Linked DNA regions of Homo sapiens: region 1 is linked to region 2. The links come from fine-mapping of genetic effects on gene expression. A gene starts in region 2. The other region holds a variant in brackets. All regions are shown on one strand. Distances are from middle to middle. Region 1 has its middle 26 kb from the start of SPACA3. Region 2 holds the start of TMEM98 (transmembrane protein 98).

The links. PIP is the estimated chance that this variant, and not a neighbour inherited with it, causes the effect. A credible set is the group of variants that fine-mapping cannot tell apart.
Region 1: its variant is the best candidate, but not a certain one, in a credible set for the expression of TMEM98 in hippocampus (GTEx, PIP 0.82).

What each region holds. Positions count from the first base shown.
Region 1 is chr17:32,963,200-32,968,571 of GRCh38, reverse strand. No RefSeq gene overlaps it. Among named protein-coding and RNA genes, the nearest start is that of SPACA3, 26 kb to the left of the region's middle. The variant T/C (reference allele first, on the strand shown) is at 2,852.
Region 2 is chr17:32,925,558-32,930,929 of GRCh38, reverse strand. It overlaps TMEM98 (transmembrane protein 98), which reads right to left and starts at 2,777. Exons shown (of 8, transcript NM_015544.3): 1 at 2,693-2,777.

The DNA of each region.
Region 1 (5,372 bases), 38 kb before region 2:
TCCAGTTTCAGCTTTCTACGTATGGCTAGCCAGTTTTCCCAGCACCATTTATTAAATAGGGAATCCTTTCCCCATTTCTTGTTTTTGTCAGGTTTGTCAAAGATCAGATGGTTGTAGATGTGTGGTATTATTTCTGAGGGCTCTGCTCTGTTCCGTTGGTCTATATCTCTGTTTTGGTACCAGTACCATGCTGTTTTGGTTACTGTAGCCTTGTGGTATAGTTTGAAGTCAGGTAGCATGATGCCTCCAGCTTTGTTCTTTTGGCTTAGGATTGTCTTGGCAATGCAGGCTCTTTTTTGGTTCCATATGAACTTTAAAGCAGTTTTTTTCCAATTCTCTGAAGAAAGTCCTTGGAAGCTTGATGGGGATGGCATTGAATCTATAAATTACCTTGGGCAGTATGGCCATTTTCATGATATTGATTCTTCCTATCCATGAGCATGGAATGTTCTTCCATTTGTTTTTGTCCTCTTTTATTTCATTGAGCAGTGGTTTGTAGCTCTCCTTGAAGAGATCCTTCTCATCCCTTGTAAGTTGGATTCCTAGGTATTTTATTCTCTTTGAAGCAATTGTGAATGGGAGTTCACTCATGATTTGGCTCTCTGTTTGTCTCTTATTGGTGTATAGGAATGCTTGTGATTTTTGCACATTGATTTTGTATCCTGAGACTTTGCTGAAATTGCTTATCAGCTTGAGGAGATTTTGGGCTGAGACGATGGGGTTTTCTAAATATACAATCATGTCATCTGCAAACAGGGACAATTTGACTTCCTCTTTTCCTAATTGAATACCCTTTATTTCTTTCTCCTGCCTGATTGCCCTGACCAGAACTTCCAACACTATGTTGAATCGGAGTGGTGAGAGAGGGCATCCCTGTCTTGTGCCAGTTTTCAAAGGGAATGCTTCCAGTTTTTGCCCATTCAGTATGATATTAGCTGTGGGTTTGTCATAAATAGTTCTTATTATTTTGAGATACGTCCCATCAATACCGAGTTTATTGAGAGTTTTTAGCATGAAGCGCTGTTGAATTTTGTCAAAGGCCTTTTCTGCATCTATTGAGATAATCATATGGTTTTTGTCTTTGGTTCTGTTTATATGATGGATTACATTTATTGATTTGCATATGTTGAACCAGCCTTGCATCCCAGGGATGAAGCCCACTTGATCATGGTGGATAAGCTTTTTGATGTGCTGCTGGATTCAGTTTGCCAGTATTTTATTGAGGATTTTTGCATCGATGTTCATCAGGGATATTGGTCTAAAATTCTCTTTTTTTGTTGTGTCTCTGCCAGGCTTTGCTATCAGGATGATGCCGGCCTCATAAAATGAGTTAGGGAGGATTCCCTGTTTTTCTATTGATTGGAATAGTTTCAGAAGGAATGGTACCAGCTCCTCTTTGTACCTCTGGTAGAATTTGGCTGTGAATCCATCTGGTCTTGGACTTTTTTTCATTGGTAGGCTATTCATTATTGCCTCAATTTCAGAGCCTGTTATTGGTCTATTCAGGGATTCAACTTCTTCCTGGTTTAGTCTTGGGAGGGTATATGTGTCGAGGAATTTATCCATTTCTTCTAGATTTTCAAGTTTATTTGCATAGAGGTGTTTATAGTATTCTCTGATGGTAGTTTGTATTTCTGCGGGATCAGTGGTGATATCCCCTTTATCATTTTTTTACTGTGTCTATTTGATTCTTCTCTCTTTTCTTCTTTATTAGTCTTGCTAGCAGTCTATCAATTTTGTTGATCTTTTCAAAAAACCAGCTCCTGGATTCATTGATTTTTTGAAAGGTTTTTTGTGTCTCTATCTCCTTCAGTTCTGCTCTGATCTTAGTTATTTCTTGCCTTCTGCTAGCTTTTGAATGTGTTTGCTCTTGCTTCTCTAGTTCTTTTAATTGTGATGTTAGGGTATCAATTTTAGATCTTTCCTGCTTTCTCTTGTGGGCATTTAGTGCAATAAATTTCCCTCTACACACTGCTTTAAATGTGTCCCAGAGATTCTGGTATGTTGTGTCTTTGTTGTCATTGGTTTCAAAGAACATCTTTATTTCTGCCGTCATTTCGTTATGTACCCAGTAGTCATTCAGGAGCAGGTTGTTCAGTTTCCATGTAGTTGAGTGGTTTTGAGTGAGTTTCTTAATCCTGAGTTCTAGTTTGATTGCACTGTGTTCTGAGAGACAGTTTGTTATAATTTCTGTTCTTTTACATTTGCTGAGGAGTGCTTTACTTCCAACTATGTGGTCAATTTTGGAATAAGTGCGAGATGGTGCTGAGAAGAATGTATATTCTGCTGATTTGGGGTGGAGAGTTCTGTAGATGTCTATTAAGTCCACTTGGTGCAGAGCTGAGTTCAATTCCTGGATATCCTTGTTAACGTTCTGTCTCATTGATCTGTCTAATGTTGACAGTGGGGTGTTAAAGTCTCCCATTATTATTGTGTGGGAGTCTAAGTCTCTTTGTAAGTCTCTAAGGACTTGCTTTATGAATCTGGGTGCTCCTGTATTGGGTGCATATATATTTAGGATAGTTAGCTCTTCTTGTTGAATTGATCCCTTTACCATTATGTAATGGCCTTCTTTGTCTCTTTTGATCTTTGTTGGTTTAAAGCCTGTTTTATCAGAGACTAGGATTGCAACCCCTGCTTCTTTTTTTTTTGTTTGTTTTCCATTTGCTTGGTAGATCTTCCTCCAACCCTTTATTTTGAGCCTATGAGAGATTTTGTCACCACCAGGCCTACCTTACAAGAGCTCCTGAAGGAAGCACTAAACATGGAAAGGAACAACCAGTACCAGCCACTGCAAAAACATGCCAAATTGTAAAGACCATGGATGCTAGGAAGAAACTGCATCAACTAA[T/C]GAGCGAAATAACCAGCTAACATCATAACGACAGGATCAAATTCACACATAACAATATTAACCTTAAATGTAATTGGGCTAAATGCTCCAATTAAGAGACACAGACTGGCAAATTGGATAAAGAGTCAAGACCCATCAGTGTGCTGTATTCAGGAGACCCATCTCACATGCAGAGACACACATAGCCTCTTACACTGTTCTAATTCTTTACTTAAATTTGGATAAAGATTTAAAGGAGAGGTTGGTTCAGCTCCCCCATGGTCTCCAGGTCTTTCTTCCTCTAACCTTCCTCCTGCCCCTTGATCTTCCTGTCCCCTATTTTTTGAGACGTATGGAAGGGGCAAGCATGGTAGGGGGTCCCAGGGCTTTTCCCTGGGTGAGGACTTTTTACTAGGCTCTTTCTCTTCTTTGAGGGGGAACATGGGGGCTAATTCCATGATCCATCAGAGAGTGTAACCTATCTCTTCTCGTCAGTATGGGGTTTTATCATTCACATAGAGAATTAAAACTTGGCAAACCCAGTCCTCGTCTGATCCAAAGTTAGGCCAAAAGACTGAAGGCTTACAAATGGGGTCCTTGGGACAGATAAAACAGCAATACTTTTTCATCTTTTGCTTTTCCTTGTCCCTGGTTCGAGAGTTGTCCCTCCAAACCTGCAGCACTCTCCCCAAAAGACTATCCAGGGAATGTCAGAGAGAGTCTTTGATTCCCTCTTTCCTTTGTCCCCTTGGCCTAGAATTTCTGTTTCCCATTTTTGGTCAGTCTCTGTGTCTGAGTTTCCTTGTGTACATAACCCCCCTCTATTGGAGGTTTCTTGCACACCCCGAAAATCACTTCATCCATCTCCGGCCATTTCCCTTGCAGGAGAATGGAACTGCGGATTGGGACTCTGCACTCGCTTCGTATCTAAGATACCTCTCAGTCACACACACTTGACCTCCGAAAATGCCCAACCACCAAGGCAGTACTTATAGTCCAATTTTCTACCTTGGCTCATGCACAAGTTTGCCTGGTTGCCACAGTGCCTGCTTTTCTCCCTCTGTCACCTCCACTGCCTCCTGAGTAACAGTCTCGAGTTTGTCTATGGCTTCTGCAGGGAGCCGGGGCGCCCGGACAGAGCAGGCCACCTAAATCAGGTGGGACACATCTCCCCTCTCACCCAGAGTCTTACTCCACGCAGGCACAGAGATCCCAGATGGGCCTCCAGGTTTGTGAGAAACATACATTCACCCATCCAAACCCGAAGAATGGACTCAGAGACACGAAGAACAGCGGAAGCGAGACTTTTAATGGTGGACTTGCAAGATCAGGTGTCTGGTAGGCAGGCACACCCAGGGCAGTTACAACAGGTAATTTATCTCCTAGCACACAAATCCTCCCCCCAGTTCCTCATTGGTTGAGTACTATGGGGTTACAATCTTCCTAGACATCGCCTAAGTTTCATTATCTCCCTTCTAAGGTTATGCCCTGGTCTCCTCCCCTGCTTAAGTTTCAATTTCCCAATAACAAAACTTTCTTCCCTTTTATGGGCTGACCCCTCTTCTACATTCTATTCACTTATGGTGACCTTCTAGGTGCATGAGACATGTGGTTTGTTACGTTTGCAGCCTGGCTGCCAGTACTTAGATTTATCATGCCTTGAAAATGGATCATTTAAAATGTTTTCTCACATTGATGATCCATGTGGCCCCTCCTAATGCCATCATCCTCTAGCTGTGCCCCCTACTCACCCACCTGCTGATTTTGTATATGGTATTTTGAGTCTCCATAAGCTAAAATGGGTGTATTGTCACCTCCATTTCTTCAACTGTAAAATGGGAATAATTATTCCTACTGCACCATTCCTATATTGGCATGAGGAGAAAAAGGGAATAATGTGTGTGAAATTGCCTTACACATAGTACATGCTTAATCAACATTTGTCTTCCTTAAAAAACCATCATAATGGGTTAGCATGGAAAAAATGTTAAAGAAAATTGTAATTCACTGACAAGCATCTTCATTCAACAGCCAGTGGGACAGAGTGGCCTTCAAGCCAAGAGAATTACATGATGTCACAACTTTCCAAGAGGCGGTGATGGATCTCAGGCTTCACAGGCAGCCTAGTGAAGTGGAAAGAACTTGGGCAGGGAGATAGACAGACCTGCTTTTAGGCCTCTGACCCATCCTTAATAGAAATATTTCTGTCCAAAAAAAAAAAAAGATTACACTGGAATAATCATTTCAACAGCTCCAGTCACTACAAAGTGGAAGATTACAGAGCCTTGATGCCAAGTCTGAGCTGAGCTCAAACCCTTCCTTTGCCATTTGTTATTGAGTGACCTAATTGTCAGTAGGGATGGTAATAATTCAAATTATTATTAGGAGGCTGTGAATTTCAAGTAAGATAAAGTATTTAGTAAGTGCTTAATAATATTAGCTATTGTTGTGTTCTAAGAGCTACAGATGGGTCCCAGTCAGTGTATTAGTGTATTGCCTGCCTAGGCACAACTGTATTCTTGTTTAAGATTTCCATGAAAAA
Region 2 (5,372 bases):
GAGCCCGGCCTTAAAATAGCTTTTTAAACCCTAGACAAAAGGAAACATTTTAACTAGCAGTTGTTTTCGCAGCCATAAAAACATGCACAAAAGAACACCCATTAAAGAGAGGAAAGATGAAACTGTATTTACTGAGGATCTACTCTGCACCAGGTTCTTTGTTAACTTTTCCAACAACAATCTTATGAAGTGGACATATTAGTAATCCCATTTTACAGTTGAGGAAACTGAGGTTCAGGGAGGTTACAGAATTTTTCCAATATGCAGTCAGGAGATGGAAAGCCATCCACTTACACTGAGATGGACATTCACTCTACTTTTCCTTTCTAAGGAAGAAAGAAGACTGTAAAGGTTCTGGAAAGAGTTCTAATTGCCAGTTTCAGTGTTGGAAACTTAGAACTGGCATTAAAGTGTCCATTGCCTCTTGCCAGTTTTCACTCAGGAGACTGTTTCACATCTATTTCTTTTTCTCATAGAATTCTTTTATTTGTGTACAAAAGAAGAATGAAAGAAGTCCGTGCATTTGTATATACTAGTGCACAGAATTTTTTTAGTATGAACACATCGATAGGCACAAACACACATAAAATGTAACTTGATAACAGTAGCTGCCTCTGGAGAGAGGAACTGAAGAACGGGGTCTTTCACACCTATTTTAAACTCATAAGCCAGAAGAACAAGGGCATCTCACAGAAGTACATATTCACTGTTATTTCATTGTAGGCCTCCTGCTTGTCTCTCTTTGTGCAAGCATTCTCCCCTCTCTGGGCTTTAATTTCCCCACGTGAAAAAAAGACACTCTGACTTAGGAGTCCTTAGAATACCAGGAGGGTGCTTTTCCTCTATTTGCACTTAATTCTATCCTCCATGTCTCGGAGGGTCCAAACGCTCTCGGTCACCATTCACTAAGTATTTATTGATCATCTACTATGCATCATGCACTGGAGATTGGAGATAGATAGGACAGAGACCCTGATCTTAAGGAGTTGGTGGGAGAGGCAGACAGGTGACAAACCACTTCAACTCCATGTGCCTGTGCTTCCTGCAGAAGAACACAGAAAAGAGAGTAACTGTGCTTGCATGACACTTTCTGGGAACTGACACTTTCACAGGAGTGGTGAGGCTAGAGCTGGGTTTTGAAGGATGAGCAGGAGTTTGCCAGGTAGACAAGGTTGGGACATGCCTGGCTTAAAGTGCCAAGGAAGCCTTTCTCAAAGGGCTCACAGAGCTGCTCTCCCATCTCGAGCTCACTGGACCACAAGAAGGAGAAGGCTGGCATCTGCCTCTTCTGTGTGTGTCGCTGATTTTGTGAGAGGTAGGTGGGGGAGGGGGGTAATTCTCAGGGTCCGCCTCTGTTTCTCTACGTGTGTGTTTCTCTTTACTGTCCTTTTAACCACCTCCTTTTGGCCTTTGTGTTTTCTGCCTCCTCTTATGTCTGCCTTTATCTCTGTTTCTCTTTCCAGGCATCTTTCCCTCTGCTGCTCCCGTCTCCCGCTTCTCAGTGTCTCTCCTTCCCCTCCCCCGGTCCCCAGGCCTCCAAGACCACCCACTTGGTTTCCTCTCTCTTCCTGTGCGTTCTGAGTGTTTCTCTGATCGTGTTTCTCTGGGTGTGTGTGAGCTGAGTGTGCTTCTAAGTGTGTTTCTCCGTGTGTGTTTGTGTTAGTGTGCGTGAGCTGTTTTTCTGTTTCTGTGTGTGTGAGCTGTTTCTCAGAGTGTGCTTCTGAGTGTGTGAGCTGTGTTTCTCAGAGTGTGTTTCTGAGTGTTAGCTATGTTTCTGAGTGTTTTCTGAATGTGCTTGTGTGAGCTGTTTATCTTGAGTGTGCTTGAGTGGGTGTGAGCTGATTGTGTTTCTCAGAGTATGTTTCTGAGTGTGTGTGAGCTGAATGTTTCTCCGAGTGTGCTTGTGTGTGTGAGCTGAGTGTGCTTCTGAGCGAGTGTGAACTGTTTCTCGGAGTGTGTTTCTGAGTGTGTGTGAACTGAATGTTTGAGTGTGCTTCTGTGTGTGAGCTGAGTGTTTATCTTGTGTGCCTCTGAGTGCGTGTGTTTCTGAGTGTGTGTGAACTGAATGTTTCTGAGTGTGCTTCTGTGTGTGAGCTGAGTGTTTATCTTGTGTGCTTCTGAGTGCGTGTGTTTCTGAGTGTGTGTGAACTGAATGTTTCTTAGTGTGCTTGTGTGTGTGACCTGAGTGTTTATCTTAAGTGTGCTTCTCAGTGCGTGTGAGCTGAGTGTGTTTCTCGGAGCGTGTGTTCGTGGTCCTTCTCTGCAGTCTGCGTGGCGTTTCTTTGTGTTTTTCTTTCTCTATTCTTCCCTGCGTACTGAAGAGTAAGTTTTCCTGTTTTTCTCCGTCTCTTTCTCTCTCCCTTACTTTCCCCCTTCCCCTCCGGTTCCAGAACCACAAGGACAGAACAGACCCAAGACCCTACCCGCTTCCCCGTGCTCGTCCACCCAGGACGCCCACTCTGTCCCCGGGAGGGAGGGACCCCCAGCCCGCCCGGGACGCGCCGCACGGGCCCCGGAGCGCTCCGGGGCGCGGCTCCTACTCCTTTCCCCAACTTCGGGCGCGCGGCCCCGCGGCAAGAACAAAGCTGCGGCACCCGCCTCCCCTCTCCCCGGCAGCCGGGCCAGGCCCCGCGCCCCCGCGTCCCCTTCCCCGACTCGCCGCGGCCCGCCCGGCCCGGCGGGGCTCACCCACCTCAGGCTGTGGCTCCCGGGCGCATCCCGCGACTGCCCCGCCGATGGCAAAGTCCGGGCGCGGGCGCGGGCCTGCAGCGGAGCATGCCGGGAAGCGCCGCGGCCCTAGGAATCCAGCCTCGCGCCCCCGCGCCCCGGCCCCCGGCCCCCGGCCCGCGCCAAATCCCCGCCGCCAGGCGCCGCCGTCACCGCCAGGCCCCCCGGCGGCCGGGGCAGCTGGGAGGCGGGCCCTGGCGACCCAACACCCCTTCCTCGCGCCCCCGCGGTGGCCCGTCCGGGCGGCAGACGGAGAGGGGAGCGGAGGGTCCCTGCCTGCGCCCCGCCCCGGGCTGGCGGTCCCAGGCGGCGAGCGCGGATGGGTACCGCAGGGGGGCTGGCGGCGGAGCCAGTGTGCTCCGCCACGGACTGTCCCATTGAAACCCTGCCTCTGCCACTCACTAGCTATGGACAACTTAGTTCAGCCTTTGTGCCTCGGTCTGTAAAACGGGGCTGCTGCTTGTCAGCATCCTCAGAGTTGGTATTAGGAATGATGGGATGCAGGATGCATCGGACTGCCTGGCCCAGGGTAAAGAGTGAATCGAGGGTCGCTCTTATTTACAGCCTGACCCACGGGTCAGTGAGAAGCAGGCCCACCCCTGGCGACTGCCTAGCCAGGGGCAAGAGTACAAATGCAGAGCCCTTGCTAGTAGTCTTGCTGCTTCTATTCCCACACGACTCCATCCCATACATACTGAAGGGGGTCTACTGGTTCAGGCAAACACACACCCCCTACCCTGCCATCCTTCATTCTAACGATACTCAGGCCAGGCAGGGCAGGCTGCCCTGGGTGGATGGAAGTCAGACCTTGGAAGCAGGCTCAGGGCTGTTTACACAGGGATTTCCGGAGTCCAGGGTACCAGGAGCATGATCTAGAAGGGAACATACGCTCCAGCTGGAGTGGGCCAACTAAAGCACGGGGTTCAGGGCAGGATCCCAGTGGTCCAGGTCTGAGGTCAGTATCGGTGACAGTTAACAAAGGATACAGATTGGGTCCTAGGCCGCTTGACACAGGGTCTGCAAACTGGTACCCCCAAGGCCACATCCAGCCCACAGAGGTGGTTTTTTTGGTTCATACTTTTGTTGTTTTATTTTAATTTTTTTGAGACAGAGTCTCAGTCAGTCGCCCAGGCTGGAGTGCTGTGGCACAGTCTTGGCTGTTTACGGGTGGAGGGTGTCCAGGTTCTTGCCTTTATTTATTTATTTATTTATTTATTTATTTATTTTTTGAAACAGAGTCTGGCTCTGTTGCCCAGGCTGGAGTGCAATGGCACGATCTCAGCTCACTGCAACCTCTGCCTCCTGGGTTCAAGCGATTCTCCTGCCTCAGCCCCCCAAGTAGCTGGGATTACAGGTGTGCGCCACCACGTCCCACTAATTTTTTTTGTTATTTTTAGTAGAGACGGGGTTTCGCCACGTTGGCCGGGCTGGTCTGGAACTCCTGACCTCAGGTGATCCACCCACCTCAGCTTCCCAAAGTGCTGGGATTATAGGCATGAGCCACCGCACCCGGCCTGTTCTTGTCATTTTGAACAAAGAATTAGACAAAAGGCACAAGCAAAGCAAGTAAAGAAAGAATGAAGCAACAAAAGCAGAGATTTATTGAAAACAAAAGTGCATTCCACAAGGTGGGAGCAGGCCCCTGCATATGGGCTCAAGAGCCCCTGCTGTAGAATCTTCTGGGGTCCAAATACCTCCTAGAGGTTTCCCATTGGCCACTTGGCGTTCACCCCATGTAAATGAAGTGGTGCCACAATTAGTCTGATTGGTTGTGGAAAGCAACCAATCAGAGGCTGAAGTGAAGTTACAAAGGTTGCACTCCTATGCAAAAGAAGATTTGGCCCGCAATCAGTCTGATCGGTTACTTTCCACAACCAATCAGAGGCTAAAGTGAAGTTACAAAGTTACACTCCTATGCAAAAGAATATTTGGCCGCAATCAGTCTGACTGGTTGCTTTCCACAACCAATCAGAGGCTGAAGTGAAGTTACAAAGTTACACTTCTATGCAAACGCAGGATTGGTTGCGGAAAGGCAATCAGAGGTACTTTCAAAAGATTTTCCATCTGCCAAGCAGAAAGTGGGGAGTGGGGGTTGCAAAGGGAGTAGTCTCTGGTCCGTTTGTTACTTAGGTGCGGAAAGTTGGGGTTTTCCTTTTGATTTAGTTCTAGGAAGTCAGGTGAACCCTTAGGTTTCCTGCCTCCAGACCCTATTCTCCTGCCTCATCTCTCTCCTGAGAGACATGACCCCCATAAATCTTTATGGGATGCAGAGGAACTGTAACTGCTTTATGCCAACTTGGGGCGTAGTTCCTACCTACTGGAGATCATGGAACTCTTGCCCTACTCTGTCTAGTGGAGACAGTGTGGCATCCTGATGGCCAGGGGTGGTGTCTTCACTTGGAACTGACTGGAAACTTTGTCACATGATCATCTGAAGCTTGATGGTCTCTATGTGAAAGGAAATGAATATGGTTAAAAGATTTAACAGGAACTTCAGGGGGTGGATACTTATGCTGTCAGGAATGTTCATTATGGAGATGAATTGAAACATTCTGCTAATTACTACAAAGGAAGTGATTCCATAAGTTTGGAAGAAGGCAATAAAAAAATGGCCACTATTATCCAGAGCACTTCCACGTTTTATT